3 linked regions of the Homo sapiens genome follow. The protein of the gene in region 3 interacts with the protein of the main gene of each other region in a pairwise test. Each region holds a gene or a part of one and is shown on either strand. Other genes may lie near its edges. The genes, in order: MLH3, DLC1 and TDRD7.

Evidence for each region.
Region 1: the proteins of TDRD7 (region 3) and MLH3 interact in a two-hybrid assay, tested with the Homo sapiens proteins (one large-scale study listed by BioGRID and IntAct).
Region 2: the proteins of TDRD7 (region 3) and DLC1 interact in a two-hybrid assay, tested with the Homo sapiens proteins (one large-scale study listed by BioGRID and IntAct).

The regions. Positions count from the first base shown.
Region 1 is NC_000014.9:75,013,468-75,017,126, reverse strand, and holds the end of MLH3 (DNA mismatch repair protein Mlh3), read left to right. Parts: coding exon 1-45; 3' UTR 46-3,352; downstream 3,353-3,659. UniProt on the Homo sapiens protein: Probably involved in the repair of mismatches in DNA.
Region 2 is NC_000008.11:13,084,744-13,088,402, forward strand, and holds part of DLC1 (rho GTPase-activating protein 7), read right to left. Parts: intron 1,721-3,659; coding exon 1,547-1,720; intron 1,189-1,546; coding exon 1,068-1,188; 3' UTR 1-1,067. UniProt on the Homo sapiens protein: Functions as a GTPase-activating protein for the small GTPases RHOA, RHOB, RHOC and CDC42, terminating their downstream signaling.
Region 3 is NC_000009.12:97,494,269-97,496,692, reverse strand, and holds the end of TDRD7 (tudor domain-containing protein 7), read right to left. Parts: intron 1,031-2,424; coding exon 810-1,030; 3' UTR 568-809; downstream 1-567. UniProt on the Homo sapiens protein: Component of specific cytoplasmic RNA granules involved in post-transcriptional regulation of specific genes: probably acts by binding to specific mRNAs and regulating their translation.

The sequences.
Region 1 (3,659 bases), on a different chromosome or scaffold from region 3:
AGGCAGAGCCTGCAGCAATCCATGCCTCCCTGTGAGCCACCATGAGAACAGAATCACTGGTCTAAAAGGAACAAAGGGATGTTCACTGTATGCCTCTGAGCAGAGAGCAGCAGCAGCAGGTACCAGCACGGCCCTGACTGAATCAGCCCAGTGTCCCTGAGCAGCTTAGACAGCAGGGCTCTCTGTATCAGTCTTTCTTGAGCAGATGATTCCCCTAGTTGAGTAGCCAGATGAAATTCAAGCCTAAAGACAATTCATTCATTTGCATCCATGGGCACAGAAGGTTGCTATATAGTATCTACCTTTTGCTACTTATTTAATGATAAAATTTAATGACAGTTTGATTGGTTGCTTGGTTTGTTATTTGAAGGGTGTGATTTTTGTTTTTGTACAGTTTTTTTTCAAGCTTCACATTTGCGTGTATCTAATTCAGCTGATGCTCAAGTCCAAGGGGTAGTCTGCCTTCCCAGGCTGCCCCCAGGGTTTCTGCACTGGTCCCCTCTTTTCCCTTCAGTCTTCTTCACTTCCCTATGCTGCTGCTTCATGTGCTACATCTCAGACTTAAAGAGTTTCTCTACTACAGTGAAAACATTCTCTAGGGTCTTTCATCAGGCCTTTAGTTATTTTAGGGATAAAAACTATTGATAAAAAGGACAAGGATAGAACAGAGAAAATTTAAAGTCCTGTTCCGGGTTTTTTGTTATGTTTTCTTTAAAAACTCAGAGACTGATGTTCAATATCCCAAACCAGTAAAATGGTGAAAATACTATGAGCTTGTTTTTTAAAATATGATTTTTTTTGGTACTTTATAAAGTATCTCTTTATGTGAAAGCAATTGTCATATCAAAACACAGCATACATACGTTCAACCTAACCAAATATCTTTACACTTTTTCTTTCAGGAGACAAGGGTTCTTTGGGTCCCTTTCAAACGGTATCTTGGTGTTATTACATTATGCCTATCTATTGCCCTTATAATATCACTTGGGACCAGGACTGATCGTTCTGCAAATGCTTGTTATGCCATTCTCAATCTATTTTTCCCGCACCTTTTCACATGATTTGTGGTTAATAGGACTCAACAGACTAAAATTGCATAGTAGAAAAAAAATGCAAAAAGCCAGCTGGTAATGTTTATTGCAACTGGGGTGCTATACAATTAGTAAGATGATGCAATGAGAATTTCTACTTTTGTATTTCCTGACCAGCCTGCTCAAAGTGGCTTTTATATCAATTGAATGATTTTCCTCATTTTTTAATACAGGAAACCAATTCGTGCTCATGGAAGAAAAGTTCCTTTGCCAGCAGCCTTGAAGTGAATCTTACAGGAGCAATGAAAGTATTGCATTCATTAGCGTCTGCCCCAGAGAAGGTTCAGAGAAAACCTTCACTTGTTTTCAAGGGGATCCTTGTAGATTTACGTAATTGGAATCCTGAAGAACAGGCCCTACTGTCTAAAAAATGGCTTTTATTCTTCTAAATACATATAAACGGATGTTTTATAGATGGGAAGACATGACCTTAGAAAGGAGAGAGTTTTCAGAGGATTTGCCAGGCTGTCAGGGGCTCTGCCTCCAGGCCCAGTGTGGCAGTGTGGCCTCAGGGCCTCCGCCTCCCTGCTTGAGGGCTGCATGGAGGCCAACTGTCCTGGGAGTTGTAAAAATCTTTTAAGGCCAGACCAATTTGAGGGATTTTAAAAAGTGTCTCAGTGCCTCTTATGATTTCAGAAGGTTTTGCTATATGTAATCCCAACTACTGTTTTCTTGAGAGTAGCAGAGGATTAGAAAAAGTCCTCCATAAATTATGTAACCGGCCTTCCTGACTAGCCTGACTCAAGCAATGTAAGAGATAATTATTCTGTTTTCATAATTTATAAGTGTGGGGGCATGCCTCAGCATAAAAACAACCTATTAGGGAAAAATATCTAATAGATTACCTTTATCGCCTGTTAGGGTTTTATGTTGTTTTTAACTCAGATGCCATAAGAACAAAGATACATGTAATTTATAATAGTAATCATTAATACCTATATTGTGCTTTAAGGTTTACAAAATAATTTTTCTCATACTTTATCTTAGTTTAGTTTCTTGACAGTCCATGAGGTAAGGTGGTAGCTTTATCACCATTTTACAAAGTGGGAAACGAAGGTTCCTCTTAGGAACCTAGTTGTCACCTTTGTATAATAAAACTTCGAAGCTCGGAGCTGTTAACTGGTTTGCTGAAGGCTTAGCTGTAAGAGCCAGAATTCAGACCCAGGTCTGAGTGACTTCAAACTGCACAGTCCTTCCCATTATTACCCATATGCTATCCCTTATATTTTTAATTTATTAGGAATTCATTCATTTATAAACTTGGTGATTCACCTTTATTAGATTCTGGTCGCTGAAGGCTTTAGTAACTTCAGAGTAAAACTTGAGAGATGAGATGTAAAATGCAGCCATTCTTGAGAGTTCCTTTTTCTGTAACATTCATCAACACTTCATTGAGAAGTGAAGGTTCCTATGGCTGTCTCTACCTTCAAGAGGCTTAGCTTTAGTCACTGAGAAAGACAAGGAAACTAATGATAGAATATAGTAGCTTCTTCTGGCGTTAGGTATCACAGAGTCACAGCTAGTTACAGCTAGCCCTTTATTATTGAAAGAAGAGGAGCTAGCAGTCCCACTATCAGAATTAAGACTAGAGATGGTAATAGGAGCTAGTATCAGAAAAGCTTAAGGCAAAGCATAAAGTGTAGGCTAGAATGAAGCTGGAGAATGGGGAGGGGGCTTGGGTAACATCCAGAACCTGGCTGGGGACCTGGAACTACATGAGATGTAAGAATGGAGAGGTTCTAGCAGTCAGAGGTCAGGTACAAATGAACAGCTGGGATCTGCGCATGGCAGACAGTGAAAAAACCCAGGCAAGCAAAATGGTCAGAGCAGAAAGGGGCCCAAGGCCACGTTCTTGAGATGTGGAGGGGGCTGAGGAAGCCACGCCAAGTAAGGACAGATGCAGCTCAGCAGTTCCTAGCGAGCCCTGACAAGCCAGCTCAGCTGAAGCTTCGGGTGGGAGCCAGTCATGGCACAGTGGAGTGAAGGAAGAGCAGTTTCAGGCACCCAAAACCTGACCCCCACGACCTGTTTTCCACCTGAAGAGCCACCCATTCCATCCAAACCCTTGGCAAAAGTCTGCTAACAGAGAGAACCGGCCAGTATGCTGGCCAGTCGCGATCATGCCTGTCTTTACCCTCTAAGCTGAAGCTGCTCATCAACGGTGAGATGGCAAAAAGGTGGGTCCAGAAGAGGGGAAAAGAAGGGAGTCTGTGAAAACAAAATGCTGAAGAATCTGCATCAAATAAACCCTTCCTTCCTTCCTTTTTCCTTCCATCCCTCTCTTCATTCAGCAAATCTTCAGTGAGTTCCTTTCTAAATGTATTGTATCAGAACTTGTGGGGGATATAAAGAAAAAAAAGAGGTTATCACATGGCTTAGGATGTTTCCAACCCTTGGATCATTTTCACCCCAGGCCCATTAGTTACAGAGCACTCAGTCTTACCCAGAAGCATCGGATATAGTCCAGGCAACCGGATCCAAGCGTGTGGGAATCGCAGTGTGCTGCATGTGGGAATCTATCAGGCCAGGATGATTCAAGCAGCAGCCTGCAGAAGTGGGATTTGGCCA
Region 2 (3,659 bases), on a different chromosome or scaffold from region 3:
GGCGGGGAAAAAGCCTTTTGTAGGTGAGTTAAATTTACAGGGATTTCCTTGGGACACACATAGTTTCCTATATTCCCAAACATAGTGTCTTAAGGCGTTTCTGTTACAAACACAAAAATGCAAAGAATTCTAACAGGGAAAAAGTGTTGATGCTTGATTTAAGAGTAAGTGTTATCGTGTTCAGTTTTTATATCTCGACTTAAACAAAAAACAAAACAAAACAAAACAAAACCCTGTGGATCAGAGCCAGTAAGGCTAGAGGGAGCAGTTCATCCCTGAACTAATCCATACTGGTTAAAACTACATCACTATTTGCAATCGGGTCTAAAAATAAACTGCATTTGGAATGGGTGTAAGAGCCAACCTATTACAATCAAAGTACAGAAGAGGTTCGTGGAAAAGGAATATGCTTAATAACTTCGAAAAAAAATACCCATAAATGGACAAGGGTGTTGGGCCCCCTTTCTGGGTGGATTCAGGGGTAGTCAGATATTCCAGGTTAAACTGAACCTGATGCATCAATCTCCTTCTTGGAGGTGTCTCAGTGTGCCAGACACTGAATCCACCTTAGACATCTATTGCCATTCAGCCAGCAACAAACACACATTCACACTCCTCTGTGCAAACCTTTCTTTGCTCATCTTGGTGAGAAAACACATCCAAGAGTACCAACTATTCCAGTGGATACACCAGTCCCTCAACACACTGCAAATAAAGCGACACAGGTACGCATACACTGATATCACAAGAGAATGAAGTATCTTCATTATCTTCCATAATGTATTTAAAGAGTTTTGCTTCTCAGAAGCAATTTGAATAAGAATACACATAAATTTTTTTTTTTTTTTTGCACAGTCTTACATATTCCAGTCAAGGTCTATGAATACAGACCCTCAACAAACAGGAAGCAGCTTTAAAAATGTATCAAATTGCTATAGTCAATTCCTACACTCCAGCTTGTAGTTTTCTTTGTTTCAGGATTAGACACAGAACCCATTCTTCAAGGACTGGCAAAAGTTCTAGAAACAAACACCATGGTGGTGGAAGCGGTTGCGTTGCTTCAGTGATCACCTAGATTTGGTGTCTTTGGTTTCAGTGTTCTGGTTACTGAAGGAATCCCGGATCTTTACAACTTCAGCTGCACACAAATGTCCAAAAGATTTTGTGTACCATTCTGGCATGTGGCCCCTATCAGAGAAAAGAAAGAAAAGCTGATGAATTATTTAAGTTAGAAAGCATGGAAATAAAATGAGAAACATCTGTTTGCTAGTTCAAATGCATAAAATCTATCATTTCCCATGCCTTTGAATTCATGGCCGAGCTACCATATTTGCTTTGCTTTAGAACCACATTTTCTAAGGGAACCAAATTACGAAGTGGTCGCTGAAAGACCAACAAACATGAAATGCTACTTTCTAAACACCATTCTTCATGAAGTCACCAAGAAAAAATGACGTGTTTGTTTAAGGCATTCTTTGCATTAGACAAAAAGTCAGAATTTCCTTCATGACCCTCACCATATAAAAAAATCAGAATCAGAACATACCTTAAGTCAACTCTGCACATGTAGGTGAGTTTGGATTTTCCTGGCCCACAGGGTTCAATCAAATACCTGGACAAGAGCACATTAACCCTCACACCCACCACAGGTGCGCGATCGTGATCCACAGAGGTTAGTAAAAGGGCACAGGCTCCTTTGGGTAAATTAGTCCTCCAGGTTCTGTAGAGACAAAACCAGAGGCAGAAATGATGGAATTTCATAGAAGCCAAGTTTAAAATCGTGCTTCACTCTTCACTATTTGCAGTGTGGTGACGGGTCAGGCTCAGTGGCCATGCTGTGTGACCCAGGCCTAGGTAAATGGCATCCTCTAAACTACTTGCTATGGTGTACATGTGTTCCCCAAAAAGCATGTGATGGAAAGTGAATGCCCAATACAACAGTGTTGGGAGGTGGGGCCTAATGGGAGCTGGATTAATGCCAATTATAAAAGAGCTTAAGGCTGGGTTCCATGGCTCACGCCTGTAATCCCAGCACTTTGGGAAGCTGGGGAGGGAGGACTGCTTGAGCTCAGGAGTTCAAGACCAGCCTGGACAACATAGTGATACCTCATCTCTACTAAAAATAAAAAATATTAGCCGGGCATGGTGGTGTGCTCCTGTAGTCTCAGCTACTCCGGGGGCTGAGATGGTAGGATTGCTTAAGCTGTAATCATGCCACTGTACTCAAACTTGGGCAACAAAGTGATACCCCCCCATCTCAAAATAAATAAATATAAAAATAAAAATGGCTTGAGGCTGCACATTTGCTCTTTTGCTCTCCCTTGCCCTCTCTTTGCCCTTCCACTATGGGATGACACAGCAAAAAGACCCTCATTAGGCATGGTGGGTGGCCCATGCCTGTAATCCCGGCGCTTTGGGAGGTTGAGGTAGGAGGATCGCTTGAGCCCAGGAGTTTTGAGACCAGCCTGGACAATATGGTGACACCATGTCTCTACCAGAAACAAAAAAATTAGCCAGGTGTGATGGCACATGCCTGCAGTCCCAACTACTTGGGAGGCTGAGGGGGGAGGATTGCTTGAGCCTGGGAGGTGAAGGCTTCAGCAGCCATGAGTGTGCCACTGCACCCTAGCCTTGGTGACAGAATGAAACCATGTCCCCAAATCAATCAAACAACCAACCAACTAACCAGATGCAACTACTTGATCTTGAACTTCCCAGCCTTTAGAACCATGAGCCAAATAAATATCTGTTCATTATAATTGCCTGGTCTGTGAGATTCTGTTAGAGCAGCATTACATGCACGAAGACACTGTACAAGGACTGCTGAATGAGGAACTCTGTACAGAGCCGTTGTTACAGAGGGTTTATGTGCTCAGACAGTCTCCTCTTTGAAAAAAGAGCCCATTTGAAGTGTAGCTTAAAACCATTTTTCTATTTCACAAATGTCTTGGAACACAGACACCTAAAGGAGCGCTGGCTGTTTGAAAAGGTCTGGACTTCCAATGTGACATTTCCACAAAGATTTTTGGAATTCTTCTTTCAGTAATATCTCCAGAGAATTTATGAATTACACATACATCAGCCTTAACCACATCTCCCTTGGGACTCAAATGTTATTTCCTGGCTTATTCATTCACTAGCTGTTTCTGACAAGAAAATCTATCCTAAAAGGGGCAAAAATCTGCTACGAATGAGCATATTCATTGGAAGGGGCCTCTCTTTCTGAGCTCAGTTACCAAAGAGTTCAGACCATTCTCAGCGAGGAACACACTGCTAGAATAAATGTAGATCTGTTTTCCATATTTGAAGGTGTTCACTACTTTTCTGGAAGCATATGTTTTGTTTTGTTTATTCAGAAATAAGGTCTTGCTCTGTTGCCCAGGCTGCGGTACAGTGGCATGCTCACAGCTCACTGCGGCCTCAAACTCCTGGCTCAAGGGATCCTCCTGCCTCGGCCTCCCGAGTAGCTAGGACTACAGGCATGCACCACAACATCTAGCTGATTTTTAAAATTTTTTTGTAGAGATAGGGTCTTGCTATATTACCCAGGCTGGTCTTGAACTGCTGGCCTCAAGTGATCCTCCCACCTTGGCCTCCCAGAGTGCTGGGATTACAGGTGTGAGCCACCATATGCCCGGCCTCTACTTTAAATAATTATA
Region 3 (2,424 bases):
TGCACAGACTAGTCATATACTATAAAACACAGTGACATATGGGCACCAAGAGAGGCATGATCAAAGTACGATGGAGTAGAAAGGGGTACCAGAGAAAGCTTCATGGTTGGCCCAGGAGGTCAGGCAGGACACTGACAAGCAAAAATGATGGGAGGAGAATGAGATGCAGGTTGACAGAATGGAATAAGCAGGGGTTCAGTGACCAAATAAAGGTACAGTGTGGCAGGGAGTGGTAGATAAGGAGGTTGGGTAGGAGGATTGTAGAAAGCCTGGGTCCTAGCTGGACTCTGTGGGCAATGAGAAGAGAAGCCACTCAAGATTTGGGTTGAGGGTCACGTTGGTTTGCCTGGGCTGCTCCTCTAGAAATGCTGATGTGTTAAGACTCAGGATAAGTCCTCACATGCTTTGGTGATCACTTGCTTTGAGATACACTACTACATCAGGGTAGAGTTAAGTCATAATAGTCTCAGCTTCACTGGAGAAGAACCCAGCTCTGCAAGGAAGACAACATGAAACGGAAGCTTTCATCTTAAGATCATGAAGCCTAGAAATTAAAAGGTAGTCAGCTTTTATATTGATAAACATTTTTATTCTAATATTATAGTAATAATTCAAGTACAATTTTCTTTGAAAAGTCAACTCTGTTAAAACAAAACTTGTTAAATATCTTTCATCAAACATAAGCATATTCTTTTCAATCCCCCACAGCAGTCAGAGCCATGTAGCAGAGTTAAGATTTTTTTTAAGCCTACTACATTTTGTTATTGCTAAAAAATCTGAATTAGTTGTCAAGGTTTCAGAGGCAGTCATTAATTAACTTTTGAAAGCTCTATCAGATACTCTGACATAAAATCATGAATCCAGGTATCGGTGTCTGGCAACGATGTGTCCACTAAGTAGACCACTACTTTCCGGTCCCAAGGGTTAGCATTTTCAATGACTGTCTGCACCAGTGCCACCAGAGGTTTCTTCTCCACATGATTTCGAAACACCATAGAAGCCTCCTCAGACCACTGGTTGCACTTCACTCCTAGGAGGAAGAGAGGAAGAAGAGGGAGCAGTGAGGAGTCAAAGGAGCTTTTCTTTGATCCATTATGATGGAAAATTATTTAGTCAATTCCAAAGTAACTTAAGCATCCCAGGTTAGACTTGCCTGAACTGAAAAACGGTTACTGAACAATCTTAAAACACTCCAGCTTATAGTTTTTCTACTCTGAATGGAGTCACTCTGGAAATCTTTAACTAAAAAACAAGTTTCATTTGAGACTTAACATTGTATTATAAAATGAGGTAATAATGACTACTGTACAACCCCCATAAAGTATATGCATATTTAAACTAATAACAGAATAAAATATCAATATCATATTAAATGACATTTCTTTCATTAAAAATTTTTTTTCTGATGGACCAAATATCATAAAAAAAAAGAATTATTGTATGATTCATTTACAGTATAGTTATTTAAAATTATACACAGCATCGTGGGAAAAGCACTGAATTGAAAGTCAACAGACTCAGTTACTATTCCCAGCTTTTCCTCTATCGGGTGGTGTGGTCTTAGGCAAATCAGCTGATCTCACCTATGATAAAAGAACCTGATTGGATCAGATCATGAGAAATCAAGTTAGAGAATTCTAAATTCGATTTTAAAACAAAACTGGGACAAGAAAGTACACATTGGCCGGGCACAGTGGCTCACACCTGTAATCCCAGCACTTTGGGAGGCCAAGGCGGGCAGGTATCTTGAGCTCAGGAGTTCGAGACCAGCCTGGGCAACATAGCCCAGCCCTGTCTCTACAAAAAATACAAAAATTAGCCGGGTGTAATGGCCTGTGCCTATAGTCCCAGCTACTCAGGAGGCTAAGGGAGGAGGATCGCTTGAGCCTGGGAGGTCAGGGCTGCAGTGAGCCGTGACTGCATCACTGTACTCCATCCAGCCTGGGTGACAAAGTGAGACCCTCTCGAAAAAAAAAAAAATATATATATATATATATACATATATATATACATATTTCAAGAAATACAATTAAGTCCACATATACTGGATTACATAAACTGTAAATTATGCCCCAAAGTAATTAAGATATGGAAATTTCAGACATAATTTTGGAAGACTTGCTATCTATATAGCAAATGGGCTAAATTCTTTGATTATTTATTTCCCACAAGAGAAGCCTAGAAATTTCATTTTATCTGCAGCAGCCCTGACAATCTTTGAGCCATGTTATTTAAGAAGAAAAAAGGTAACCCATTGGTAAGGTAAAAGATGATTCCACAGTATGGCTCCCTTTCTTCTAGGATTCAGAAAATTTTGTGCATGGCCATGGTGCACTGATGCAAAGAATGCCCAGGTCAAGGCCAGATGTAATGAAGCAACAACTCACTGGTGTTGTGGGAAGTCAGGAACCCCAAATGGAGGGA